Linked DNA regions of Homo sapiens: regions 1, 2, 3, 5, 6 and 7 are each linked to region 4. Evidence: fine-mapped expression QTL. A gene starts in region 4. Each other region holds a variant in brackets. All regions are shown on one strand. Distances are from middle to middle. Region 1 has its middle 230 kb from the start of ALCAM. Region 2 overlaps ALCAM (activated leukocyte cell adhesion molecule). Region 3 has its middle 250 kb from the start of ALCAM. Region 4 holds the start of ALCAM (activated leukocyte cell adhesion molecule). Region 5 overlaps ALCAM (activated leukocyte cell adhesion molecule). Region 6 overlaps ALCAM (activated leukocyte cell adhesion molecule). Region 7 overlaps LOC105374020 (a long non-coding RNA gene).

Region 1 (4,070 bases), 230 kb after region 4:
AATTGAATCATGGGAGCAGTTACCCTCATGGTGTTCTCATGATAGTGAGTTCTTGTGAGATATGATGTTTTATAAGATCTGATGAGCTTTCCCCTCTTTTGCTTGGCACTTCTCCTTGCTGCTGCCATGTGAAGAAGGATATGTTTGCTTCCCTTTCCACCATGATTGTAAGTTTACTGAGGCCTCCTCAGCCATGCTGAACTGTCAGTCAATTAAACCTCTTTCCTATATAAATTACTCTGTCTCAGGTATGTCTTTTTTAGCAGTGTGAGAACAAACTAATAGAGTATATTTATAGTAAAAATAAACACAATTAAGTATTAAAAATCATGCATTTAAAAGGAGCATTAACCATTTTAAAATAAACATTATAAATATCCTTTATAATTTTAATAGTATGTTTTTCTCTTGAGAATGTGCTGGGCTATTAGAAAATAACTGATACTAGACATAGTACTTTAATCTCTCAATTTCATAGAGAGTTAAATTTAAGAAAGAACATTAAATGTAATCTCTAGGGTACTGAACTGAGAAAAGTTTTTTTTCAAAGTATCTTGATTATTTTTCATATAGAATATCACTCCTTTCTCTCCCTGACCTCAAAGCCTAGCTGCTGATACAGGGGGAAAAATATTTAGATAAGTTTCTATGTTTTTATTTATACTCAAATGCATATAATTAAAACAATTTAATAGAGACTATAAACTTATACTGAAAGTTTGTGTATGCAACTAGAGATGTAAGATAATTACATCTCTAGTTGCTAATACACTGAATAGCTTTTAAATGATAATAATAACAAAGATAAAACTTACTCTTAGGAACTTAAGACCTTGATATTGCAGAGATCTTCAAGGTAAGCTCCAATTTTTTGAAGGGCAAGCCATCATATAAAAGCATGCTAGTATAAATGAAAAGTTAAGATGGGTTTATTTTTATAAACAAATTCACTTTTCATGTTTTATTTATCTTGAAAAAAGCCACAACATATTTCCAGAACTATTATGACCAGAGGCTGTTTTTGGAGGTACAGTGTGCACATAGCCAGCGTGCAAAGCTAGGCTGGTATGCCTGCTATTTCGTCCTTTGTATGAAGATTTTTTTTTTTAGGTGGTTGAACCATTTTGATTTGATAAGCACTGACCTGCACAGTGAGGATGTAACCTTCATTGCCTACCCTGGCATGTTTTTTTAAACAGCTAGGTAAACAAGATTCTTAATTGTGACATTTCCTATGAGCATGTGGTTTTGTTTTCAGCACAGAAGTATACATTCAGAGGATATTCTGAGAATTCTTGGCAATAATCTGAAATGACTTCAACAACTTGAACAAATTGTTCTTCTCCATTTGCTCAAATAATTATGTGTCCTTTTGGCTTATCTGTGAGAGTCCTGTTTACCTTTGATGTTGCTGGAATATTTCTCTGATCACGTGGTCAGAGTCTTTAACTTGTGTCTCAATTTTGTTACAAGTAGAAGCTTATTAATATCTAACCCTGTAGGCATTGCGGAAATATTTCAAAGACTCTTTAGCCAGCAGAAGTATGAGATATTTTCACTTCCTCAAAGTAATAACAATAATAGTTATCAATATTACTATAAAATAGAGAAAATGTTTTGGAGCCAGAGATTGTAGAACCTGATCTACATTAAACTTCTGGAAGATTGACTCTAGTTGGCCCACTGGAGAGTCTTTGTTAGGCAGTAGGTGCAGATGTGTGCTTCCTTTAATGAGCTATAAGCAGGACCCATGTGAATGCATGAACATTACCTCTGAAAGAATTAAAGAGGGCATCCAAGGTAGACCCCAAAATACATTCTCAGGGAAACTGGAATTTAAAAAAGTATGAAAAAGCTTGGAATCTGTGTTAAAAGAATACGAATTATATATAACTATAAGAACAAACATTACTGGTAAGTAAACAGAAATAATTTCAACATCAAGAATGCCTCAGTTAGGTGTTACATTCAATTTACACAAGAACAGACACTTATACTAGAAACATATGTTGTTAAAATAATTCCCATAGT[C/T]ATTCTGGGGGAAGTAATCTAATAGAACTCTTTATGTGCAGATGAGAAGATGTAAAACCATAGTGGTTAGGTAATTTTTTTTAAAGTCTGGAGGAACCATTGCTTAAGCTTCCTGCTCTACAAATCAGCTTAGACCATTTCACAAAGCCACTCTACCATTCTAATCATTTTCTTATATACTTAAAAGAAATTGTATTTCCCATTTTCTTTTGAAGTATTTTATTAACAAATGCAAAGTGTTTGATAATGGAATATCTATTAATTAGGCTAACATATTGAATTCTCATTTTGCTAAGAGAATATTTTCTTAAAGAGTTTTTATTCCCTCTTCTTTTACTTCCCTTTTTGAGGTTTTTCTAAGAATGAACATTTAAGTAGTGCTCTCAACATTATACACTCCTGAAAAAAGACATTTGCAGCCGGGCGTGGTGGCTCACGCCTGTAATCCTAGCACTTTATGAGGCCAAGGCGGACAGATCACTTGAGGTCAGGAGTTCAAAACCAGCCCGGCCAACATGGTGAAACCCCGTCTATACTAAAAATTCAAAAAATTAGCCGGGCATGATGGTGCACGTCTGTAATCTCAGCTACTTGGGAGGCTGAGGCAGGAGAATCGCTTGAACCTGGGAGGCAGAGGTTGCAGTGAGCCAAGATCATGCCACTGCACTCCAGCCCGGGCAACAGAGTCAGACCCTGTTAAAAAAAAAAAATTTGCTGTGATCAATGTCCTGCGGAAGTGCAGTGAAATAAAGGCTGCTCTAAAGATTTTAAGGCTTGCTTTTTTATTTCTTGTTATCAGTATTTGGTCTTTCTGAGAACAATGTCTGTAGTATAAGCTTCTTAGGGTTGCTGTAACGAAGTGTCACAAACAGGGTGGCTTAAACTACAAAAATGTATTCTTGCACAGTTCTGGAAGCTAGAAGTCTGAAATCAAGATGTCAACCGCGTTGGTTCCTTCAGAGGGCTGTGAGTTTCATCACTCTCTCCAAGCTTCTGGTAGCCTCAGGGGTTCCTTGGCTTCCAGTGTCTTCACAGCATCCTCTCTGTATGTCTGTCTTTGTGTCCAAAATTCCCCTTTCATAAGGATATAGTCACATTAGATAAGGGCCAACTGTAATGACTTCATTATAACTTGATCATCTTCAAAGATCCTACTTCCAAATAAGGTCACATTTGTAGCACTTTGGGGATTAGGGCTTAAACATCCTTTTTTTTGTCTTTTGAGAGAACACAATTCAATCTATAACAATGTCATATCCAGGGTTAATGAACATATAATAGCCATTTATATTCTGATGTTTGTAGACCATTTCATTTGATCATTTCCATTAGTTTTTAAACATAACCCAATGACTAACAAAAATATCTTCTCTCATTTCAATATCCCACCTAAAGATATTTCTATTTTTATCACCTTACAATTGCACTTCTTAAAAAAAAAAAAAAAAAAAGCAACTATTCTATGTTTGTGGTCTCTATTCTCTCTCATATCCCACATTCACTTTTCTTTTTTCTTTTCTTTTCTTTTTTTTTTTTTTTGGCAAAAACTTTTTTTTGTTTGTTTGTTTGAGATGGAGTTTTGCTCTTATTGCCCAGGCTGGAGTGCACGTGGCACAATCTCAGCTCACTGCAACCTCCACCTCTCGGGTTCAAACCGTTCTCCTGCCTCAGCCTCCTAAGTAGCTGGGATTACAGGCACACGCCACCACACCCAACTAATTTTGTATTTTTAGTAGAGACAGGGTTTCACCATGTTGGCCAGGATGGTCTTGAACTCCTGACCTTGTGATCCACCTGCTTCAGCCTCCCAAAGTGCTGGGATTATAGGCGTGAGCCACTGCGCCTGGCCTCACATTCACTTTTCAGCCCACTGTAGTATGTTTTTACATTACATCACTCTGACAAAACAGCTCTTAATAAGGTTAACAATGATCTCCATTTTGCTAAATTCAAGATTTTTCCTGTCCTCAATTTGCTTATCTCTTCAGGATCATTGTTCAAAGAAGCAATCTACAAGGGGCCTTAAGCATCCCTGTATG
Region 2 (4,070 bases), 31 kb before region 4:
ATACGAAGGGATGTAGGCTGTCTGCTAACCAAGTTAATCTTAGCCAGTGGGTAAGAATGCTCTGTATTCTAAGGCCAATGGTGACTGCTGAAAAAGAGCCAAAGTTTTCCAAACAGAGTGGCTCTTGTTGTCTTTGTGGGAACTGACTGGCTCTTGGATTTTCCAGGGAGGGCAGGTTTTCATGGTTTGAGTGGTCAGAAAAGGATAGCCTGAAAGATTGGTCAAAAAACATAAAACCATCAGGATATAACATTAAACCATTAAGAGATTATGAAATTAGCATTAGTTACAGTAACTGGATATAGTCTTTTGCTTATTTCATTCACTTTTTTTCATACTGAAATCTGATAAGAAATTAAAAGAATTGTAGACAATAAATCTAGGCCTAATATGTGTATTTATATGCAACAATATACATTTATTGCCACTAAATATTCCCTCTTAACTACTCTGAATTGCTTTAACTAGTTATTTGATATATGGGTAATAATAAAATTTATATTCTGATGTAATATGACATTTTGATTTATACTTTCAAACTTACAAAGTTTAAAAGGAAAGATGAGTATTGTAAATATACCAACAATCACTGCACTAGCTTTTAGAAAGGTAACAGGCATGCAATTTCCTTGAAACTAAAGTGTAAAGAAAAAAAATAGGTCAGCAAATATTTACTGAAATTTGCTGGGTACGATGATGCATACAGAAATGATCAGTGTCTGAACTATATCTGAATAATTTCTGTTAAAACTGAAATGCAATTATTTTTGAAATGCAAAAGACCACCAAACTCAAGTAGCATTTTAAAAAAATGACAAAAATCAGTTGCAGTCTGTGTTTTAAAGGAATTTCAAATATGCCTTATAAGAAATTCACATTAGGGGCTGCATTTCTATGTATTTTGAGTAAACTAACCAAAGTAACTTAAGATTCACAAGGAAAAGAGATGAGAGTAGAACAAAATAAAAGAAGTGTGAATGTAGTAAAAAAAAATCAAAGAAAAGGAAGAAAAGGAAAAAAAAAAGCTTATGAGTCCTAGAAGGGTTAGAACACTTTTTTTTTCTTGCTCTTGGCAGAAGGAACAAAGCAACAAGCAATCTCCAGTGCTAAGAAAAATGTAGACATGAATTAATGGTGATTAGAAATTGGTAAATATTACCAGCTTCTTTATAAATGGCTCTCCTAAACATGCTATGGTTAATGGTTTAGGGTACAAAAGATATGACCAAAGCAAAAGCCATAAAAGAGGCTTTTATACTAAGGAAATAATTTATACAATAAACACAAGTGTAGTCATTCCAGCTGGCATGCTGCTATCCATCTTAATTATTGCAATAAATGAACCACTGGCCATCACATTTAAAAGACTATGGAAAACTGGATGGCTACCAAAAGATCAGAAAGAAAAGCTTTATGTTAAAATAAAGTGATGATTAAATTGAAAATCAGGCCATAATACTGATGATACATTTTCACTAGGCTAAATAAGGTAGCATTATCTCTGAAAATTATATTTACTTGACCTCGTAAATTTCTCAGTAATTTAAGAAGCAACTATATAATTTGTGCACTATCCACATACCAGATTGTATTTACAGAAAGCATTTTTTCTTCTGAAAAAAAATGAAAGAGGGGGAGCTGCAGTGGGCATGCATGGGTCAGCACAGCATAGGCTAATTGAAGTTTTGGTATATAGACAGCACTGCCTCCTCTAGGACAGCTGTTCTCAAAGTGTGGTCCCAGGACTGGCAACATCAGCAACATATGGGACCTTGTTAGAAATGCAAATTTGGAACCCCACTTCAGAAATACTGAATCTGAAACTGTAGATGTCAAGCCCAACAACCTATGTTTTAACAAACTCTCCAGGTGATTGAGAGGCACGTGCAAGTTTAAGAACCACCATTCCACCAAAACAAAAGCTTCATAGGACCATGTTTTCTTTATCACTGCATCCCTAGCATCCAACTTAACACAGTAGCTAACCCATGGTAGTCACTCAACAAATATTTGTTGAATTAATTAGTTAAGAAAGCTTTTATTAAAAAGTGGATTTAAAATGATATTCTAAAGCATTATTTTACATATTTTTAGTGTTGTCAAATAAATAATTCCATTTATCAAACAGAAGTTCAATTTTTTTAAAAGCTTCATTTTATTGGTTCAGTTCTTATTTGCATTTAGTCAAATTATATTTGGAAAACAAAGTGTTCTTTAAAAAGGTATGTGACAATCATTATACGTAAATAGTTTAGAATTTCTGGATGAGTGGTTAATTTGTTGTGTTTCGTTGTTATTGAAAATTGGAGGGAGGGTTATTTGAGGAAAGCTTGATCATGAAAAATGGAATCTACTACCTATTCATGAATATATTATGTTATGTTAAATAACAAGAAGTGA[T/C]AGCTATAAGTTTAAATTGATATGTTTAAATCTATTATCTCTATACTTGGTATAAATTATTTTTTAAATTTAGTCACCCATTTAAACTTAGAGTTATCACTTTTTGTTATTCAACATAACATAATGTACTTACATAATTTTGAATTACAAAGCAACTCAAGCACTTTGACTAAGTTTACTTCATATATACATGTGTACAACTTGCAGAAGATACACTTTATTTTTCAAAAGTAATGTTTATAAGGAATAAACAAAAATCAAAACTTAAAACAATAGTATAATATTTATCTGTAAAGCTTAAACTCACATTGCCAGTTAGATAAGGGAACAAATGCCAAGAGAAAAATTTATTAATCTCAAAAGGCAGAGTAATGGCCTCATCATTTCACAAAGCACAATTTCAGGAGACACACTTTATTGTATTTCTTTGTGTGAATTATAAACTTTAGTAGAAAATGGGAAATAGGCAAAGTAATACATTTTAACTGTAGCACACCAATTGATATAGCCTCGCAAAAAAAGGTTATTTTGAAAAATTAATTCAATTCATCTACAATAGGAAACCTGTCACCATAAGCTGAAATTGGATAAAAGTCCACAGATAGTTAACACTTTCATGCCACCTAAAAGTATACATATGCTTTTTATGAAAAATTACTATCTCACATGCTAACATTTAACAAAGGAACTATAAAACTGCTAAGAAATGAATCCAGAGGCTATGGTCTTTGGAAAGGTATGGTAACCTTTAAGAGGGCAATCACTTTTTCCTAAATACTACTTGCAGAGTTAACCATCCCAATAATCGCTGACACCATGAACATCAAGGACAGACAGAGGACTGGGCAGTAGGGAAGCTATGGTTCCACAATATTTTTACTGTTAGATAGTAGATATTGCTGAAGAATGTCCAAAACTTCATTAAATCTACTAGAAATTAATTCTACTTAAAAACTCAATTTGTACTAATGCTTTTGTTCATCCTTTGTTTCTACCTTTTAGGAAGAAGTCCAGTAAGTTTCTAGTAATCTTGTCCCGTTTCTCAGTTTTGTCTCTTTCTCCAGATTTGAGACATTGCCCAATCAATCCCTGTGCTTTTCCAAGTTCAGTTTTGCCCTTTGAGTCTGATCCTTCTTTCCTTTTGGCTCCCACAGATATTCAGGTCTCTTCTATTTCAAAGATTCTCAGGAAGATCATACCTCCTAGCTCCTAAACCTCCTATTTCTCTCCTTATGATCATCACTAAGCTCCATTCTCTGTCTTCACTGTACTCCAATGATTTGCACAGCAGCCACATCCTTGAATTGTTGAATATAGATACAGTATTTTACTCATTTATTCAGCACCACGGTTATAACTTGCTTATGATGAGTGTCTAATAAATATTAATTTAATTAAGCAAAAAATGCTATAGTAGGCAGTTATTATTGTGCTTGCCCAGTCTACTTTATTAGCACATCCCAAGGCTTCTTGAAATTGCACAGAAACCTATCAAATTCCCCTCCTCCAATGTTAGTTGACTGGTCCTAAATGGACACCTGACCCAAGCTAAGCCAATCAGAAACCTTGCCCTGTGAATTCAGAACTAGGCAAACTATGTTTATTAAATGGAGGAGAACTCAATCCAGGAGACATGGGCTGCCATATGGCCTTAGAATCAAAATGGGATA
Region 3 (4,070 bases), 250 kb before region 4:
GGGACTCTCTTTCCTCTTCAAAACTAGGTAATAGCTTCACATATTTCCCTGGGTTTTGTAATATATACTTGTCCATACCAATACTTATAGGGATATCCTGCATGAGTACTGTTTATTTGCAAAATGGCCCTCAAGAATATATGCACTTTAAAGTATATACATAAGACTAATATAACTAAATAATAATCTATAGTAATAAATAAGAAATAGTCTGTAGTAATAAATAATATTCTTAGATTAATGGATGTAGCTCACTATGTAGGAGAAAATGATCAGGACCATGATGCGTGTAGACTCAACTGGCTATCAATGTCCCATATGATGGCTCTACCCAATGGAGTGGAAAAATGCTCAAGCAAGATACGCCAAGTTGAAAAAGATCCATGGCTTCACTGTCATCCCAAATTTTCGTTAAAAATATGCCCTCCTGTTGTTTAGTTTCAAAGATGGAGACCAGAGCTCGTAAGATTTATTTCATCACTATCAACACCAGACGACTGTCCAAGCAGTCATCAGTATTCCTCCTACCTGAAACACACACACACTCTCTCTCTCTTTCTCTCTCTCTCTCTCTAGTCCCAAGGAAAAGAAGGACAAAGTTTTTCACATCTTGAATCAGAGTACAAATATTTACCTCATTTTGTTGTATTGATTATTAAATGAGCCAATCTTTATAAAGTGCCTAGCACATGGAAATCTCACAAAAATGCCTGCTGCTGCTGCTCCTCCTCATCCTAGTCCTTATTATCCTCCTCATCCTTCTTGTCCTTCTCTTTTTACTACTAATACTACTGTGTCTGGCTCCAAAGTATTATATAATTAGATATTAACATTTATGCCTAATGAGTCAGCTATAGTATACTGAAAGGAGCTGATCTTGGAATTAGACCAGCATGGGTTTGAAAGCCACTTACTGACCACAACAAGAGTTTGGCTAACTTACCTAACCTCCCTGAATGTCCATTTCTTTATCTGTAAAATGGGACAGTAATATTTACCTCATAGGATTGCTGTAAGTAATTAATGCAATGTGTCTAGGAAGTAATAGGTGATTAACAAATGTCAATACTTTTGCCATTTCCTTCTAAACCTCCACTATGAGAGTCTTCACTCTAGACAAGAGGATGCCACACTTGAATAAGTGGGCTGTAGCCCCAGACATCATTTCCTCCTCTGAGTGATTGATGGAAACATGTTATCTCTTTCCAAGCAGCAGTTGCTGTTGACTGCCACACAAGTGTTCCCTGGAATGTGCTGTTAGCAGATAGTGATGCTTTATTGCCCACAGTCAGCTGACCATTTCTCTGGAGGAATGAGGAAACCCAAATAAAGTGGGTGAACCAATGCTGTCAGCCAATTCAGAATATGGTCCTAGATGGATACAAATGTAATCACTCCCTGACTACACCATTTCCAGCAATTTTATATGCTTACACAGCCCTGCAAAGTCGAGTCATTATCACTGCATACCCAAAATGTCCTAATTTTTATGTTTATCTTTAAAGCCAATTATATTCTTAAATTTGTTTTGCAGAATTTCTTCCAGGATGTTTTCCAGTCATTCTGGATTTAAGCTATTGCATGGCTTTTAATCTCTTCCCACAATTCCTTCATATTCTATCTCCCACCCAGGTGTTTCATGAGATTGTAAGTGAATACTAATGTGAGTCCTTTACTAGTCCTTCAAAGAGGCAGAATAACCTTGGGAGTATGGGCATGGGTTTTACAGTACATTATGGCCCTTATTGTCATGGGACCTACATCAGTTTAGCCTCAGTTGTCTCAACTGTGAAATGGAGATAGTAAAGCACACTGGTAGAAAGAATTATTGAAGCTTAATTGAATGCGTAATAGAAAATGTCTAGCACATGCTTGATGCTCAATACTTTGCAATACTCAGAAAACTTTTACACATACAGACTTGCTTCATCTGTCTTCTGGATACACCTTCTATTAAAAACTCTTACTCTGAACTTTTTGCACATTTTCCTATTTTTTTAAATTGCTACCTTTTTTTTTAATTGCTAGATTCTGTCCTCAACTAGCTCTGTCATAGAGAAAGGCAAATGGTGAGCAAGCGACAGTGGACACTTCTCCAGTTGTGTCTCTGTGTGTGGTAGTGGGACATGGGAAGAATGGAGCCTCCCTGGGGAGGAAGGGGCCACACTATGTTCCCACCTTGTGTAAGAACGTAGGCAGCTTGACAAACAAGAACGTTTCCTGG[C/A]ACCCACTGGGCTCAAAGCACCTGATTAGGCCTGGTGAGAGATTACAATGGGATGAGAAGATGGGCCTTCTGCCTGGCTGCTCAGCCAACCAGCTGCTTAGAAGCCTGAGAGAAGCAGGGGAGTCAGGGCTGGCTGGGTGTTGTCACACCACAATGCATTATACTCAAGAGGAGCTAATTTTAAGCTGGCAAGTTGTTCTATCTGTTAGCACAGAAAATATTCATTCCTGGAGTAAAGGAATTGGGAGTTAACCAGATCCAGGGCACCCAGGGGGCCTTGTAAATCACAGAGCTGCTGAGTAACCTGGAAGCTCCATTGAGAACAGCGAGAGCATGTATTCCAGCCACTAAGGAGCACAGAAGCCTTTTGTAAGCCAAGTGAAGGTAGATGCTGTGCAATCAGTCCACAGAGAGGACAAAATCTAGGACAGCGGTTACTATAAAGCCACAGCTAAAGTTCTCCTGTTGTCTTTATTTACTCAGCCCTTCCTTTAAAATTTCCTGATTTGTCACTGTCATTTGTGAATATTGCCTGATCAAAAGGAAGATCTGTTTCTCCAGAGATGGGGCTGGGAATAGATAGGGGAAGCATGTAGCCTGTGGAGGCTGAGCATGTTCTTGGGTACCTCTGTTGTAGAATTATTCCTCTGCCTGGCCAGAGAAGAACTCTGAATAGCAGGCTGTTCCACTTGGAGATAATGTGGAGCATGATTTCCCCTGCTGTCTCAATTATTTCTGAAATGCAAACTTGCAAAGACCAATTCATGTGCTTGTGTTTAGGAAAACCTGAGCCCTCCCAAACAGTCACGGGCTTTGTTCTCCTGGTTTTCTTCTGAGAGTTTCACTCTCCAAAGGATAACTAGATTCTTGTAGAAACTAAATTGAAGCTGGAAGATTAATCCAGGTGGCTTACATGTCAATCACTTTGTAGAAACCTTTGAAGGTGGATGTGTGACAAGCATATCTAATTATTTATAATGACACTTTTATTACTATGGCTCTTTTCTCCTAAGGATTTTCTGATTTCAGAGTACTTTAGAAGGTTATTGCTATTAATCACAGCATATTTATTTAAAAATTGGAGTGAGATGATATGCAAATAAGCAAGCTGAAACTTCTTTTAAAATTATATTTTATATATGTTTCTATTATTACATTTTTATTTGCCAGTACCGAATATTTTCTTTTACAGTTGAATTATATTTATTCTTTCAAAAGCAAATTTCAAAGTTGTAACTTAAAATAGTAATTAAAGACAATCAACATATTCAGTAATGCTTAGAAGCAACTTTAGTTGAAACTGTCTTTGCAAAATTATAACAGTGAGGCAAATCCAAACTGATTTAGATTCTTGCTTCTAACCTGACAAGCTAACTGCATTTGTTAACTTTAAAACAAAGAGGATAACAGTCCCTTCCCAAAACTAACCCCCTCCTTGCTTGGGGACCAAAACCAACTTTGTAAGACTTATAAAAGGCCATGAGGTTAGGGTTATGGGAGGGGCCTGAATTCTGCTAAGATGTATGCATAGTTCAATGATAACCAGCCATTGTTCCCTAGCTTGCCTTTCTATAATTGTTTGCTACATCAGAGGTCATATGATTTGCAACTTCCCCTATTGTTCAGATAGATAACATCACTATTGTCACAACCTAAGATTGGTCTTTGAGATATTTTTCAGACTTTTGCATTCTGGCAACCGACTGACTCTACTCAGACCAGTAAGTCATACCAAGGAACCGGTTCAACCAGTCCTGTAACCCTTATCTAGAAATAGAGTCAGCGTGCCAAAATAATATGAACATTCCTGTAATTTCATCCCCAACCAATTAACAGCACCTATTCC
Region 4 (4,070 bases):
CCCAGCGTTGTTACACTAGGACACCTGCTTTAAATCCGGTTGAACTATGGTTTCACAGTCCCCGCCCCAGAGCCCGAGATTTGTCAGAGAACGCAGACGCCTTTTTTTTCCCTCAGCCTCAGAAACATCAGGTGAGCTCATTACCTCACCCAGAAATGTAACTTTAATAAAGAGATCTGGAGAGGGCACTCCTCCCGCCCACACACACAGCAACGGCAGCAGCAGCAGCAGCTCGCAAACACTTGTAATCTCTTCCTCAGGCTCTGGCCCCCAAACCCCTCTCCCCGCCAGTTCCTGGGAGAGATTCAGAGGCTTTCAAACCTCTTCTGTGACCTGAGCTTGCCGACAGCTGAAGGGATGTGCACGGATAAAAGGAAGTGAGATTTTTCTTTGATAAAAGCTAAAGAAAAAGCTAAGAACAAACAGGCCAAAATACCAGGAAGTAGGAGTTTAACTGGCAACTGTCTACGCAGGGATAGAAAAAAAAAACTTCAAAGAAAAAAAAATCCCCTAAATTTTCAGTTTAGGGGAGCAAAGGAACCTGCTGCTCTGTCAGGCAACTGTGAGCGCACGGAATACCCTGTTAGAACAACTTGTGTCAGCCGCCAGGCGGGCCTGAGGATACCAGGGCCAGGGGACGTCCCCGAGGGTGTGGAAAGGGATTTCCCGAGAGATATTTTAGTTGTTGGGAATTTTGCCTTTTCTCTCTCTCTCTCTCTCTCTCTCTCTCTCTCTCTCTCTCTTCCAAGACTCAGTACAGAACTGAGAACTGAGGCTCTATGAGCAGGTCCTGGAAATTCACAAACCTCTCACTGAGGTGTCTCCCAGGCCTACCTACTAATTCCTGTTCTGGCTGTGTTATCTGCCTGCGGTCACCCTTTCACTCACCACCCGCCCAGACAATGGACGGGGACCGCAGGGGGTAACGTTGAAACCACGATTTTAAGCTTTAGCAGGTTTCGCAAGGGGGGCGGGGGGAGGTGATTAAAGTCCTCTCCTTCTCTACCCCTCCCATCCCTTCCTCGGCTCACCAAGGGGAAGTTACTAGGGGATTTATCACGAAAAAGTGCCGGCAGTTATTTCATCCGAGAACTAAGCGAAAGAAAAACTGCTCGGGGCGCAGTGACGTGGACTTGGATACCCAGAGACAGGAGGAACTGTCAGAGGGCAAGAGTCCGCCGCCTAGCTGGGAGCCGCAGGGACAAGGGGAGAGCGTCAGGCGAATCCTGCCCACCCCGGAGCACCAAGTTCCTGGAGATTCACCCAGTTTCCCCAGCTTGATGCCCAAACTTGAGCTAACCAGCCAAGCCCAAACGTGCGGCACAGGTGACCGAGCCCGGGGACAGCTCTGTGCCAGGACAGCGGTCCCCTTACCTCCACCACGCGCCTGGGCGCACTGCCTCGGGGGTGCGAGGCTGGGACGGGGACCTAGGAAACTGCTCCAGGCCCACGTCTGTCTGGGGCTGCTCCCAGGCCCTTGCTCACCTGGCCTGAAGACGGTGGCGGAGATCAAGAGGCAGAAGAGCAGACGGCAGGAACTGGCCCCCTTGGATTCCATATTCCTCCTCCTTCTTGGTGGGCCACTGACGGAGTCCACGCCGCAGGAGGGGGCGTCGTCCCGGGCCCCGCGGTGCCCGCGCGCTGGCGGGTCCCGACGCAGGGGCAGCGTCTTCTCCCAGACACACCGTCCCCTGGGCTGTGGCGCTGCACCTTCGGTTCTCTGCCGCACGCAACTTTCCACCACGCAATGCCCCCAACTCCTCCTCCCTCCCGGTCAACACCAGCCCACGGGCCCTTCGGCTGCTCCTCCGGGGACAACGACCCTCTGTTTCCAGGAGACACTTGAGTAATTCGGAAAGGTGTAAGCGGTTCTTTTCGCTGGTATCTTCTTTTATTTTCCTTGTATTGGAATGATAATAATAATGGCAGTGGCAATGTGCATGAAACGCCAGGTGCTAAGAAGGACTCGCAGGAGGCGGCGACGGGGGGGCGGCGGGTCTCCTCAGGTGGCAGCGGTGGTAGCAGCGGCAGCGGCGGCAGCGGTCTCCGGGCTGCTCTGAGTAGAGGGACTGGAAGGCGTGTGTAAGCTGCCTCTTTCCTCCTCTCCCCGCCTCCTCCCTCCCTCCCGTCTCCTCCCCACTTCCCCGGACGCAGCGCAAAGCAGGTGGTTGAAGCGCGGATCCGCAGCCTAGAGGCGCTGCAGGACTGAGTCCGAGCCCTGAGCCCAGCTCCGGGATCAGGGAGAACCGCGTGCCCCGGTCCTGGAGCCCGGATGAGCGGTGCTTCACCGCGGCTCCGCCCCCAGGGCCAGGTCCGCCAATAAGAAGCAAGCACAGGAGCCGCGCGCGCCAGGGAGAGCCCTGGGACTAACACTTTCTGTGATGTTGCAGCGCCCCAGTGATAAGGCCTCTGGCTTCCAACTGCCCACCCACCCTCGCTGAGGTTTAAAAATCGACTGCCCTCTCCCTCCACCCATACGCCCATCCCACTGACTCATTCCTCAGAGATTTTTCTCCGCCGTGCTGCTGCAGCCTTCTGTCCTGTAAAGAGAATAGTGGGGCAGGGCGGTGGCGGTGGGGAGCGAACCTTGGGTCCAAGAGCGGGAGTGAAGGGAAAAGGAAAGGAAAGGGCAGGAGGAAGTGGCAAAGGTGGAAACTTGCTTCTTGGGAGTTAACAGGAATAGCTACTTGTTGGCAGGGGCAACCCCTGTACTGGACTGATTCCTCCTGTACTTTTCGAATCTCTCTCCTCCCCCTGCTCACCCCCACCACTCCCCTCACACCCGGCTGGCATAGACTTGGTTTTAAAGGAAGACTACGTGAGTCGACTGCCCGGTACCAACAGAAGATATTTGCTTTTCCCGGGGGAAATTAAATCCGGAATTTCTAAACCGTACTTCGTCATACGGATTTTCCCAATGTCTACAAAAGCCCTCTAGAGAGCGTGTCACTTTTTTACTTTGAGTTAAGCGGTGATTTTAAGTTATAGACAGAAAATCCTCAAATTATTTCAGATTAAAAGCCAAGTCCGTCTTGGTCCGTTCCCGAAAGCCAGGCACTCCAGCAGATGGACAGGCTTCTTAGGCAATTTCTAAAGATTGAACCACCTCCCAGGAGGAACATCGGGAAGCTGTGTTGCTTTCAAATCAGGCAGAGAGCATGAAGGAAGATTTTCCTCTAGAACACCGGGGTGGAGCTGTCGGAGCCCTAAGTGGCTCTAAATCAGGGATGCAGGATCACAACTCTCATCACCAAAGAATAATAAAATCTTGGTCCCTGAAGCACTTCGCTGGGGCATTAAATAGCCTTTCGTGCATCACAGGGTCACCCTTTTGTGAGACTGGTCTCCAGCAGAGGATGCCAACTAGTAATCGTTACATACTGCACTTTCATCAGAAAACTGCGAGTTACCAGCGAGATTGGAGACTCGCAACACACAGACACACACACACACACACACACTCACACACTGATTTTTAAAATTGTTTATCTTTTAGTGCTCTAAACTATTAAGCCCTATCTTCAGCTGTGATTTTTCTCAAAAGCCTGCTTGTCCTGTTCTTCCAGTTCTCCTTACATTAACAATATTCTAGAGTAGAGCTTTTATACCATATTTTTTTCCTCTCAAAATAAGTAGTTTCTCCCACTTGGTTTAAACATTAACATTTCATTTGCATCTTATGAATCAACAGGAAGGCTATCGCTAGGAGGCAAATGCCTTTTAACTCTATATTCCTTGAGCTAAGCTTGGCTGAAATGCTAGCATTTCCATGGACTCCTGTAGAATTGCTTTAGGGAATTGTTTTCTTTTTCACTGTGGTTGTAAGTGGGGTGTATTAGAATAAATCGACCTGACAATATATTTAACCTAGGTCCGCGAACGCTCTATCTGATCTCCTCTATTTTACGATGGGAGTTAATACAGCATAATTGCTTAAAGGTAGATTTGCAAAAGGAAGACTGATTTGGGCTCTGACACTAACTGTATGATCTTGGTCAACTCACTTAACCTCTTTAAGCTTCAGTCTCCTTTCTTGTAAAAAGTGATAATAGTGCTAGCCTCATGGGATT
Region 5 (4,070 bases), 130 kb before region 4:
ACATTGAACAAACTTTGATTTTGGTTTCTAACTCTATATCAATTGATAAGTGTTTTCAACTGTAACTTGAGTTTGCTTTAGATTGGTTGCCACTATCACTTAAGAATTATTAAACATTTTTATTGCATTGCCTCAGCATGTAATATGTTTTAAGTATTGGCAGGCACTATGCTTTATATCTTTCCAATACTACTCTCATAATAAGCTTGTGAGCTTAGAAGCCATGCTGCATGCAGGAAATTCTGATTCAGGCATAGTACTGTTTCATTTAAATAGGGAACAAAATGAATTAATATTATTCATCTTAATTACTACCATTATGGATAAGAAAAATAAACTACATTTCAAAATTAAAGTAATATTTTATGTATTCAAGATCACTCAGATATTATTTTCTAGGTATTTGAAATCTAGATTCTTATACCTTATAGATTTTTATTTTTAAATTATTTTAGATGGAGAATATTTGGAACATCTGGAGCATCTTGCATACTCTTCTGATGTCAAATAAAATTACATGTCAAAATACCATTATATAGTGCTTAAGATTTCACTTTCCAGTTACACTATCTGTTAAACCAAATATTATTCAGAATGTAAATAAACATCTCCTTGATAACTGTTATTTCTATAAGCACATACTATGCTATAATTCAGTGAGACTTTCAGGAATTACTGAACTGTTTCAACCGACTTGCCAATATACTAAACAGCCCCACCCCAAACAGTATTTTGAAATTCCTGTGCTTTGTTTACAATGATTTATCTTTTCTCTCACTATTCCTGTCAGTTGTCAGTCACTCTCGCTAATGATAACAGCCCGCATTTGTGCAGCACCTCAGAGCCTTCGAAGCACTCGCCCATTTATTGCTCCCTTCTGTGATTGTCTCATAGTCCCTTTCCAGTTTGCCACTAACATGCCAGGCCTTTGAAAACAACATAATCAAACTTTAAAAGAGATTCAATGTAAAGAGTAAACAGTCTCTGTGAGAGGGGCCCAAGGAGTTTCCTTGTGAATAAAGTTTGGTTCATGGACATCAGCATTTATTTTGACTGCTCAAAACCTGGGTGTTTCCTGCAGAGCTGGGCTCTGAATGGTTGAGGTTGGCAGATAAGAAGACTCCAGCTGTAGGAAATATTTCTGTTATTGCCCTTTTATAAGGAAATGTTTAGTGATTCCAAGATGTACATTTGAAATGATAAGTGACCTTAGAGATAATTTATTGCAGTCACTCATCCTGTAACTAAAGAAGCTAAGGACCAGAGAATTTAAAGTGTTGAAGATAGAACCAAGTTAAGGAAATGACTCTTGTGACTCTTAATCCAATATTGTTTTTATGAACACCACATCATGTATTTGTTCTAAATAGTCTTGGTATTTTAAAGATACTGAATTTTTGTAAGTTTGGCATGGTGATATGAAATGGAGATAATATATTTCAAGTGCATTACTATAACATGCAATGGAGTATGTAATAGAAAATTAACTTTCGTATATTAAATTTTAAATATTGTATCAGCATTTTCTCCATAGTTGCTGAAGTTGGAAAGGAAATATTTTAAAAGAGAGATCTTTTAATGTCATCTAAACACCCACCACAAACAGAGCTTGCATCGTAAAAATACAGAATCCTAAGAAAAAAAGAAAGAAAAGGGAAAAAAGAAGAGATGGTGAGTGAAAGAAGCTAGGAAGGAGATGAGAAAAGAGGAAGGAAGAAGAAGGCAGGCAGGCTTACAGGAAAAGTTCATCATTCTTTGTCGTATTAATATGAAGAAAGTATGGTAATTTTTTGTGAGTTTTTGTATTGTGAAATAATGTGGAAACTG[G/TGG]TGGTAAATCAAGTGTAACACTTAAGAAATAATTTGGGAGACATTAACTGATATGAGCTCTAAACAAAACCTCCAGTGAGGATCCTGTGTAGTCTGTGAACAAAGCCAATCTACTGCACACTGACCTTCTACAAAGAGGCTCTGAAAACAAAGTGGTTGTTAGGTGAGGTAAATTGAAATAAGAAAAGATAGCAGATATTACATTAAAGGCTCCCGTATTTATTAAGGGTACGGCAATTCTAAAATCTAATTGTGAAATGCAGTTCTCCCTGAGGATTCCTACAGCTAATTGGAACAGGTGAGAGAGAATGTAGAAGAAAGAGGTAGCCATATTTGTACTTAGATAGTTTTGGGTAAGCTGTCTGTTCTGTCTAGAAATCACATCAGCTTTCCAGCAGAGTACCATGAGAAAATGCTTTTGGTTCTGTTTGCCATCCCTGCTAATGTTTACCCTACTTAATCATTTGCATTTAAACTTGATAGACCAATTACATCAAACAGCTACCTCTCCGCCCCAGCAGATTTTAATCAACAAACAGAAATTAATTTGTATGTAGAAAGACAGACATGAACTGATTTATAGAATACAGTTTTAAGGCAAAAAATATTTCTTTTCTTTAGCAAGATAAGATTAAAGGACTCTTCTGTACATGACTGGAAATGAAAGCCATGTTAAAGTTACATGATATTTTTGGCCTGGAATTTAGAAAGAATTAGTAAAACAAACTTTATTACTAGGCCTATTTTCCAAACTGGTAATATTATAGTATGAAAGAGTCACATAATTTCTTCCTTTTTTGCTACAATTTAACATTCTAGTTTGATCTTTTGCTTTAAATGGTAATTCACTTAAGTTTTGGTCTCCTCTCACCTAAAGTCACTTGCTCTTAAGGAATATAAAACATATGTATATTTAAAATTATTTTCTAGTTCTTAGATATTAAAGATATAGGGTTGCCACTCCACAGGGCTTTGAAAAATTCTACTTTGCTTGGGTTTTTACAGTGATTAAAGTATTATTTCTCTTTAGTAGGTACATTTTAATCACTGAACTTAGAAGATATCTAGTGATATTGTACTATTGTAATTTGTTGTCATTCATTTGCCTAAAGAAAGGTGAGATAAGTTATATCCTTTGTATTGCTGAAAAAATACATCATTTTGAACATATATCAATACAATAAGCAAAACTCTGAAATACATTAATATTTATATAACTTCTTCAAGAATTTTCTCACACTGTTTTAGCAGTTCGTGATGGAACTAAATCTATTAGAAAAAATACTAAAGGCATTGTACAATATCTCATATTGCATTCTTGTATCCCATAAGACAATGGGAATTTAGCAAGGAGTCAGGATCATCTTAATTGTTAAACTAAAGTTTTCATTTGAATTTCTGTTTTATTAATGGATCACCATGTGCCCCTGAAGGTTTTTATATTGGAATGTTTTACTAGATTCCTTAACAGCCATTTGCCTCTCTTGGATAGTGGAGCTCCAAGCACAAAACTTTGAAGTGTTATAAAAAGCAGAACACTCCTGGAATCTTTACAAATGGAACAAGACTAATACCTTATGCCTACATGATATCAAGGCAGGTAAAATTATATTATACTAATAAAGAGAAAGATGATTAAAACACACACACACACACACACATTTGGCAGGCTAACAGACAAAACATGGTGGTGTCAAGGATACCAAACTCAAGACAAATGTCATTATTCTTCTCTATGTAGTGTTGAGACCTGGGTCCTGAATTTCTTAGCACATTATTCACACATTTACTTTTTAGAAAACTTCCCACTTATGCTGACATTTTACATTGTGTTTTGTGTGACCAGAAACTACAGAATACAGAAGCAGAATACTATAAAGAGTGGAGGAAAAAACCCAGCAATTTGAAACTCAAACGTCCTGGTTTTGAACCCTGACACCAGACTTCCTAGCCATATGACTTTGAATATATTTAACCACTACACCTCCCTACTTCACAAACTGTAAAGCAGGGACAATCACACTTATCTTTCAGCATTAAGTCGATAATGAATGTACGATATCAGTAACCTGGAACATGGTGGGTGCTTCACAAAGGATAGTCCAATTTCCCCCCTTTTTTTTTTTTTTTGAGGCAGAGTCTCGCTCTGTCGCCCAGGCTTGAGTGCAGTGGTGTGATCTTGGCTCACTGCAAGCTCCGCCTCCCAGGTTCACACCATTATCCTGCCTCAGCCTCCCGAGTAG
Region 6 (4,070 bases), 140 kb before region 4:
TATAGGAGCTCTTTACTTTCCACTCAAATTTTTCCATAAACTAAGAACAGATAAAAATAGTCTATTAATTAAAAACAAGTGATACACACAATTTCTTCAGCCTATGCAATATATTCTACATTTAGACAGTCTCATCTAAATTCCACTGGTATAGGGAGAGGGAAGGACACAAACATCTTCAAGGGCAAAGCTTTGGCATCCATTAGCAGAGGTGATTCCAGTCTAGGCAGCTGAATCCCCAGGCAGATTTCAGCAGGTGCTGACTTTCCAACAGCACCAAAACCTCTGATGAACAAGAGTGTCTTGAGTAGAGGCTTAGCAATTGCTGTTTTATGATTATGTTTTTCACATATTCCCAATCCCACTGAGGTGCTAATACATTTGGTTCATCTTTCCATTTTAAAAGAGACAATGGCTTTGATAATTTGTTCATGGTTACTGCTTAGGGAGATAATGACACTCAAAATTCCCCTAACTGAATATTATAATATTACGTCTTTGGCTCTGCTATTTTTAACAGCTTTTAAAGACAATAGTGTCATTTGGGTTTAAAAAAAAGTTCACTGTTCCTACTCATTAAAGGAATACTAGGTTATAAAGACGAGCTGTAAGAGTCCTAGCAGGGCTTCAGATTATATCATGTATTTAGTTTATGAATCTCATTTTGTTATGAATCTATAACTGAAACAACTCCCAATGCTTCCCCCAGGAAGTAATTAATTGGAAACCAAACAAACAAACCACATGGAAAAGACTGAAATACTTTGTATTACTGTCTGAAAATCCAATGGTAATTTTCAAGTTCATTCCCACCTGAGTCCTACAAAAATATGCTATAAGTGTGTGTTCTTCAGCTACAATTCTACCTCTCTGTGTATTTACAACAGCTAATAAGAACACCACCCCTAGAATCAATTTAAAACATTTTCTTTATGTTTTGTGAATTGCAGGAAGCCTCAACATGCAAATATAACTATTAGTACATGTTTAATTAACAGGCATATATTACATACTTCTTAGGTAAAGAGTATCATTTTAGAGAGTTTGTTATGTAGAAATCCATAAATTTGTGTTTCTAATTTTAAAAACAGGGAGCTGTTCAACAAAGAAAATTTCCAATACAAAATCTTATTTAACAGTCACCAAGGTAAACACATAAGATCAATAAAAATCGCTGATCATACTTCAACACAATTATACTTCAGAAAGATAAAGTTATGGAAATTTTCTATTTGTTCTAAAGCCTTTGTAGCTATGAGAATATTTATAATGATTTCTGTGGGAAAGCCAATAAAATCTTTTGAAAATGAAAAAAATTAAATATATCTGAAGAATAGTGTAGGTTATATCTTTATCTAATATTGTTGATATAATCCAAAGACTGTAAAAGATATATGCTAAACATCTGATTAGAATTTAATAAGTTATTTATTACTGATCTGTGCCAAACAGTCTTCAATATTTTTTCTAAGAATGTTTTTCTGTGAAAATATTTTTATTTTTAAAAATAAAATTTCCTTAATCTAAAAGGCTCTGATTCGTATTAATTCAGATAAATTGGACATAAAGCTATTGATTGGCTAAAATGTCCAGATACTATACTCCTGCTGGGCATATGATATGATTTGGATTTGTGTTCCTGCACAAATCTCATGTCTAATTATAATCCCCAATGCTGGAAGAGGGGCCTGGTAGGAGGTGACTGGATTATGGGCGTGGATTTCCCCCTTGTTGTTCTCAAGATAGTGCCTTCTCATAAGAGCTGGTGGTTTAAAAGCCTGTGGCAGCTTCCTCATCACTCTCTTCCTCCTTCTCTGGCCATGTAAGATGTCCCTGGTTCCTCTTCACCTTCCGCCA[C/T]GATTGCAAGTTTCCTGAGGCCTCCTCAGCTGTGTTCCCTGTACAGCTGGTGGAACTGAGTCAATTAAACCTCTTTTCTTTATAAATTACTCAGTCTCGGGTAGTTCTTTATAGCAATGAGAGGACGGTCTAATACAACATATACATATAAATAAGCTACCTCTTCCAAGGAGATAAAAATCTAGAAGACAGAAATGAAACATAATTAGCAGCAGAGTGTAGCAATTAAGGCATTGTTTCTGGCCTCAGACCTGGTAAGGATGAATCCAGCTCTGCTACTAATAAGCTAGGTGACTTCTAGTGAGTTACTTAGCCAATATGCACTAATGTTTCCCAGCTGTAAAATTGAGGACAATGATAGTGATATGGAAGGGAAGTGCTGGGTAGGGAAGAGCGTGGTCCCTTTAAATGATACAGAAGGGGGAAGGGAAGAGCTGGGTAGAGGGGGACGTGGTCCCTGGCTAGGGCTCCACCCCCAGGCCTGTGTCCCCACACCTAGGTGAAGACAGGCATTTTTGTTTTCCTGCCCAAATGTTGCATTTCCCAAGACCACCCTGGCCTGCCATGCCCCCATCCTGGGCCTACAAAAACCCTGAGACCCTAGCAGGCAGAGACACACAGGTGGTCGTCTGGAGGAGCAGCACATCGGCGGGGGGAAGGTGGGGGGAACAAACGAGCAGCTGGACGTCAAGAGGTATGTATTGACAGGCACCAGCAGGCCGGCAGGCCGTGGGCTTGCAGAAACAGACGCGGAGTTGGCGGGGGCAGCTGAAGGAGAGGCTAGGCCGCTGAGTGGCCAGACTCCAGGAGAAAACCTTCCCACTTCATCCTCCTTCTGGCTTCCCCCATCTGCTGAGAGCTACCTCCACTAAATAAAAGCTTGCACTCATTCTCCAAGCCCATACGTGATCTGATTCTTCCGGTACACCAAGGCAAGAACCCGAGATACAGAAAGCCCTCTGTCCTTGTGACAACGTAGAAGGTCTAATTAAGCTGGTTAACACAAGCCGCCTATAGACGGCGAAACTAAAAGAGCACAAGACACTGCGATAGGGTCGGAGCTCCATAACCTGCCCCATAACCTGCCCGTCTGTGTGCTCCCTAGAGGTTTGAGCAGTGGGGCACTGAAGAAGCGAGCCACTACCCCTGTCGCATGCCCTGTGAGGGGGACAAGGGAACTTTCCCCCTTTTAATAGTATCATGCTCATAGTGTTATCATGAATATACTAAATTAATAAGTATAAGTTGCTTTAAAAAAGTGCTTTTCATACAACGAGTGCTGAAAGTTATTATGTCTCTTTGGCTTTTATTTATTGGAATAATGGAGATTATATGCCAAATGTTGCAGGAGCAGAGGAGGGATTGATGAATAGGCTGGAGAAGGCTTTGCCTGGAATGGACATTTATACTGAATCATCACAGATAAGAATTTCTTCAAGTGGAAAGAAGGATGAAGGAAACTCCTTGCAAGAGAAAGGCTGGAGCAAGGGTATAATCATGTTCAGCCAGTGTGGCTGAGGTTTAGGGGCTGTAGGAGGTGATGGAAGGAAAGGCACCTGGGAAAGAAGCAATGGGGTGATACTTTGAAAGCCTTAAATAATAGCTTAAACAATTTGGACTTTATTCTGTAAAGAATGTGGAGTCAACAAAAGGATTTTTGGTTCATTTTAAGGATGGCAGTGAAGTGGTCAGATTTTTGCTATTGAAAATTATGGCAGCAGTATGAAGGCAAACTAGCTGGAGAAGGGACTCGGGGAAGGTAATCGTGTTAAAGTGTTTAGGTTATGTACTCATAGTGAAATAGGGCAGTGGGAATGAAAAAGAGGCACAGTGAAAAGGAGACAGGAGACATTTCTAAAGTAGAATCGATATGAGCCTCAGTCAGTTTGCTGCATTTTTCAACTACAAAGTTCACATTTCCCAACATAACTAAGTACACAGCTCACATGAAAAACAGCTAATACCAAGTCTCTGTAGAAGCATATCATACACTATGTGTGAAATCACACACTCACTAGGCAAATAGGAAAGCTGTCTTTTTGTGTTAGCTCTTTGGAAAAGCTTGAGACTAAATAAGTAGAAGAGTCCAAAGCAAATATTAACTCTGGTGGTGTTAGGTGCTTGGATTTCTAAACGCAAATTGTTAATGCAAAATGCATTTTGGCTTTAACACACGCGAGCCCTTTTTGCCACACACTATAAACTACAGAAAG
Region 7 (4,070 bases), 990 kb after region 4:
TATTTCAGAATAATGAGACTAATGTAAATAATTAGAGAAAATAGTTCTTGTATAGGTGAATTTCTGAAATACACTTAAACTGGTATTTTTATTGATGCACAAGAAAATATTGCTTCTATGAAGGAGGATCTAGCTAAAAATTTCTTAACAGAAGAACTTTTTTATGAGAGAACAACATTGTTTATAGAATTTTAAGATGTGTTAGAAGTAGTAACAATTGCACATATTTGACAAAAATCCAAATTATTTAATATGCATTTATATTCGAGAATCTCAAAACTCAAAAAGATCTGATGACTCTGGTTCCAGAAAAGAAAAGAGAAGAGACATAAAGTACAGCACACACAGGTACAAGAAAACATTGGAATGAGAAACAGAAAAGTTGGAATAGGAGTAATAACACAGTGAAATATAATTTCCAGAAAATTGTGGTGCGTGAAAAAGAAGACAACTCCAAAAAATTATATACTATATGGTTCCATGTATATTAAATTTTTTAAAAGACACAATTTTAAAACTAGAGAATAGTGATAATCAGGGGTTCGGAATGTTGATGGAGCTGGAGAGCTAGATGCATATGATTTTAAAAGGACAATATCAGGGCTCTCTCTGGTTATGGATCTGTTTTGTTTCTTGGCTGGTGATGGAGACATGAGTGTGCACATGTGACAAAATTGTACAGAACTAGACTCATGCATGTGCACACACACAAATGAGTACAAACAAAACTGGGAAATCTATGTAAGATTAGAGGATTGCATCAGTGTTGACATTCTGGTTGTGGTACTGTACTATAGCTTTGCATATTACTTTTGGGGGAAATTAGATAAACGATATATGAGATCTTTTTGTATGATTTCTTGTAAGTATAGGGGACTCTACAATGACCTCTTTATAAACAGTTTCATTAAAAATATATAAATAGAATAAAAGATTTAGGCTTCAAAACAAATGGAATCCACAAGTAACTGTATTATGTATTATAGGAATGTATGCTATGACATATTTTATAACATTCATAAATTTCAAAGATAAAGATAAAATCTAATAAAATAAAATAGAAAGAAAACAACTAGCCCATTAAAACAAAACAAAAGCAGGCTGGTTTTAGCATTCGCTTTGTTCGTGATGAACAACTCTGGAGTCAGTGTTGTTCTCCATAACTATAAATGTCATAAAATAACGGATAAATGTAAATTTTTAAAAACAATGTGACTCAAGCATTTCTTAGGCAGTAAAATTAGTTTGCATAAGTGAGGTAAAAACTATATTTTGTAGTCCACTGAGACATAAACTGTTCATCTATTTGACCTTTCTGAAAAGCAGTAATTGAAAAAATATTACAGTAGAATTATAAATGAACAAAAAGAGAATTCAGGAATCAAAATATTATTTCAAGGAAAAAGCCATAGATACTGAAACCAACAAAAATTTGCAAAGAAGTCTAAAAAGTTTATATTAATATGAATATTAAACTCGAAGGAATTATATAAATATGCTTGAATTAGAAGTAATACAGTTTAAGAGTAAATTGATGACATGGGAGATTGAGATGAACACAGTATCTTCTAATTTTACATAATGCTCAAGGCAAGAAAATAAATGTAGTTTAATTATTTAATATTAAAATATAATATGGCAACTTTAAAAAAATATTATACTTTAAGTTCTGGAATACATGTGAAGAACGTGTGGGTTTGTTACATAGGTATACACGTGCCATGGTGGTTTATTGCACCCATCAACCCATCATCTACAGTAGGTATTTCTTTTAATGCTATCGCTCTTCTAGCCCCTCACCCCCGACAGGCCTCGGTGTGTGATGTTCCCCTTCCCGTGTCCGTGTGTTCTCATTGTTCAACTCCCACTTATGAGTGAGAACATGTTGTATTTGGTTTTCTGCCCCTGTGTTAGTTTGCTGAGAATAGCGGTTTCCAGCCTCATACATCCATATCCTTGCAAAGGACATGAACTCATCCTTTTTTATGGCTGCATAGTATTCCATGGTGTATATGTGACACATTTTCTTTATTCAGTCTATCATTGATGGGCATTTGGGTTGGTTCCAAGTCTTTGCTATTGTGAACAGTGCTGCAATAAACATAAGTGTGCA[T/A]GCGTCTTTATAGTAGAATAATTTATAATCCTTTGGGTATATACCCAGTAGTGGGATTGCTGGGTCAAAGGGTATTTTTGGTTCTAGATCCTTGAGGAATTTCCACACTGTCTTCCACAAAGATTGAACTAATTTACACTCCCACCAACAGTGTAAAAGCATTCCTATTTCTCCACATCCTCTCCAGCATCTGTTGTTTCCTGACTTTTTAATGATCACCATTCTAACTGGTGTGAGATGGTATCTCATTGTGGTTTTGATTTGCATTTCTCTGATGACCAGTGATGATGAGCTTTTTTTCATGTTTGTTGGCCACATAAATGTCTTCTTTTGAGAAGTGTCTGTTCATATCCTTTGCTCACTTTTCGATGGGGTTATTTGTTTTTTTCTTGTAAATTTGTTTAAATTTCTTGTAGATTCTGGATATTAGCCCTTTGTCAGATGGATAGATTGCAAAAATTTTCTCCCATTCTCTAGGTTGCCTGTTCACTCTGATGATAGTCTCTTTTGCTACGCAGAAGCTCTTTAGTTTATTTAGATCTCATTTGTTAATTTTGGCCTTTGGGCAATATTTTTAATTGAACTTAACTCCTGAGGATAAAGTAACAGCAACAACAAAAATGATACCCAGAAAAAGAGAAAACAAAAATTGCTATTTTTCACGAAAAAAAATCAATGGACTTTTAAAATTACAAAGTCCAGTATTTTTTAAAGTAATGAAAACATATTAGTCATGATAAAAAATGACAATAAAGTTCACTAGAAACAATAAAAAACAACCACAGTAAACTTTCTGCAGCTGATAGGAGAATCACTACAATCTACATAAAATGGTATTTTAAAAATAAATTCATGTTAACTTCTGGGTTTGTCTGTGAACCACAGAGCTGGTATTGGACTTACCTTACTACTCTGGACAATTCTAAAACTCAACAAACCTTTTGAGGAACTCTTTTCGTTTATTAGAAAACAGACAGCAAAGGGCTCTGAAACTTGAAGAAGGGATGGCTCAAAGGTGAGCTCTGCACATATCATCAACTGGCTTCTGGTTGGCGTCATTTCTAACCCTTAAAAGTATAGCTTTAACAGGCAGCAGCAATCTTGTTGGGCAAAACAAACAGATCAAAAAGGTGACAAAGTGGTAGCTTTTTTTGTGGGGAACAGCACCCAATGGGAAGGGCTTGCAGTGGAGAAGATTAAGAAATCTGTGTAGTGGAGCTCTTTGGTCTTTGACTGAATCCTAAACTACACATTTAAAGAACAGGATTATGTAATCATTAGCAGGTAACATCTGAGAATTAAGCATATTTTTGAGGTAAATGACTGAGAAGATATTTGAATTTCGAGCTTTCATCAACCAGAAAAAAATGTAAAAATAAAAATCATATTCTATAAAAAAGTTTTGCACATAAATTCTGAAAACACAACTGAAACAGAACCACCTCCCCAACCTAAAACTAAGTTAAGACAGGATCAAAGTAATCTAACAGTAATAGAAATTCCCCCCAGAACAACTCAATAATCTATAAGAGAAGATAATGCAATCCAGTTTTTATAACATATCATTTGTAACATCTATATGCAATAAATTAGCTACTTATTATAAAAAGAGGCAAATAGGACTTCCAATCAGAAGTAAAATAAATGCAGTTAAGCTGAGTAGACTTATAGATGGCACAGATATTGATATTAACTGACAGGGACTTTAATATAACAATTGGAGAGTTTAAAATAGTTTATAGGAAAACAGGAAAAAATGGGTGAAAAATGGGGACATTCAAAAAAGGAAAGATATCCCTAAATAAATGATTCTAATGGAAACGTTAAAGAAACAAATACAATATCTTTATAAACAATCTTAGTTGGAAATAGACTGGACAAAGCAAAATAAATATTTAAATGAAATAAGAATGATACAAATTGTACAAACTGAAGTACAGATGGAAACGTAATAATA

Evidence for each region. PIP is the estimated chance that this variant, and not a neighbour inherited with it, causes the effect. A credible set is the group of variants that fine-mapping cannot tell apart.
Region 1: its variant is the best candidate, but not a certain one, in a credible set for the expression of ALCAM in whole blood (INTERVAL, PIP 0.71).
Region 2: its variant is the best candidate, but not a certain one, in a credible set for the expression of ALCAM in whole blood (INTERVAL, PIP 0.72).
Region 3: its variant is the best candidate, but not a certain one, in a credible set for the expression of ALCAM in atrial appendage (GTEx, PIP 0.56).
Region 5: its variant is the best candidate, but not a certain one, in a credible set for the expression of ALCAM in whole blood (INTERVAL, PIP 0.88).
Region 6: its variant is the best candidate, but not a certain one, in a credible set for the expression of ALCAM in blood mononuclear cells (TOPMed, PIP 0.67).
Region 7: its variant is the best candidate, but not a certain one, in a credible set for the expression of ALCAM in tibial nerve (GTEx, PIP 0.62).

What each region holds. Positions count from the first base shown.
Region 1 is chr3:105,138,413-105,142,482 of GRCh38, reverse strand. No RefSeq gene overlaps it. Among named protein-coding and RNA genes, the nearest start is that of ALCAM, 230 kb to the left of the region's middle. The variant C/T (reference allele first, on the strand shown) is at 2,032.
Region 2 is chr3:105,395,851-105,399,920 of GRCh38, reverse strand. All of the region lies in intron 1 of ALCAM (activated leukocyte cell adhesion molecule), which reads right to left. Among named protein-coding and RNA genes, the nearest start is that of ALCAM, 31 kb to the right of the region's middle. The variant T/C (reference allele first, on the strand shown) is at 2,401.
Region 3 is chr3:105,611,660-105,615,729 of GRCh38, reverse strand. No RefSeq gene overlaps it. Among named protein-coding and RNA genes, the nearest start is that of ALCAM, 250 kb to the right of the region's middle. The variant C/A (reference allele first, on the strand shown) is at 2,225.
Region 4 is chr3:105,364,897-105,368,966 of GRCh38, reverse strand. ALCAM (activated leukocyte cell adhesion molecule) reads right to left here and starts at 2,058. Exons shown (of 16, transcript NM_001627.4): 1 at 1,486-2,058. The coding sequence starts at 1,558. RefSeq lists enhancers at 1-37, 374-533 and silencers at 1,564-1,683, 2,014-2,113.
Region 5 is chr3:105,497,918-105,501,987 of GRCh38, reverse strand. All of the region lies in intron 1 of ALCAM (activated leukocyte cell adhesion molecule), which reads right to left. Among named protein-coding and RNA genes, the nearest start is that of ALCAM, 130 kb to the right of the region's middle. The variant G/TGG (reference allele first, on the strand shown) is at 1,828.
Region 6 is chr3:105,503,091-105,507,160 of GRCh38, reverse strand. All of the region lies in intron 1 of ALCAM (activated leukocyte cell adhesion molecule), which reads right to left. Among named protein-coding and RNA genes, the nearest start is that of ALCAM, 140 kb to the right of the region's middle. RefSeq lists enhancers at 1,970-2,500, 2,501-3,031. The variant C/T (reference allele first, on the strand shown) is at 1,858.
Region 7 is chr3:104,372,274-104,376,343 of GRCh38, reverse strand. All of the region lies in intron 1 of LOC105374020 (a long non-coding RNA gene), which reads left to right. Among named protein-coding and RNA genes, the nearest start is that of MIR548AB, 850 kb to the right of the region's middle. The variant T/A (reference allele first, on the strand shown) is at 2,114.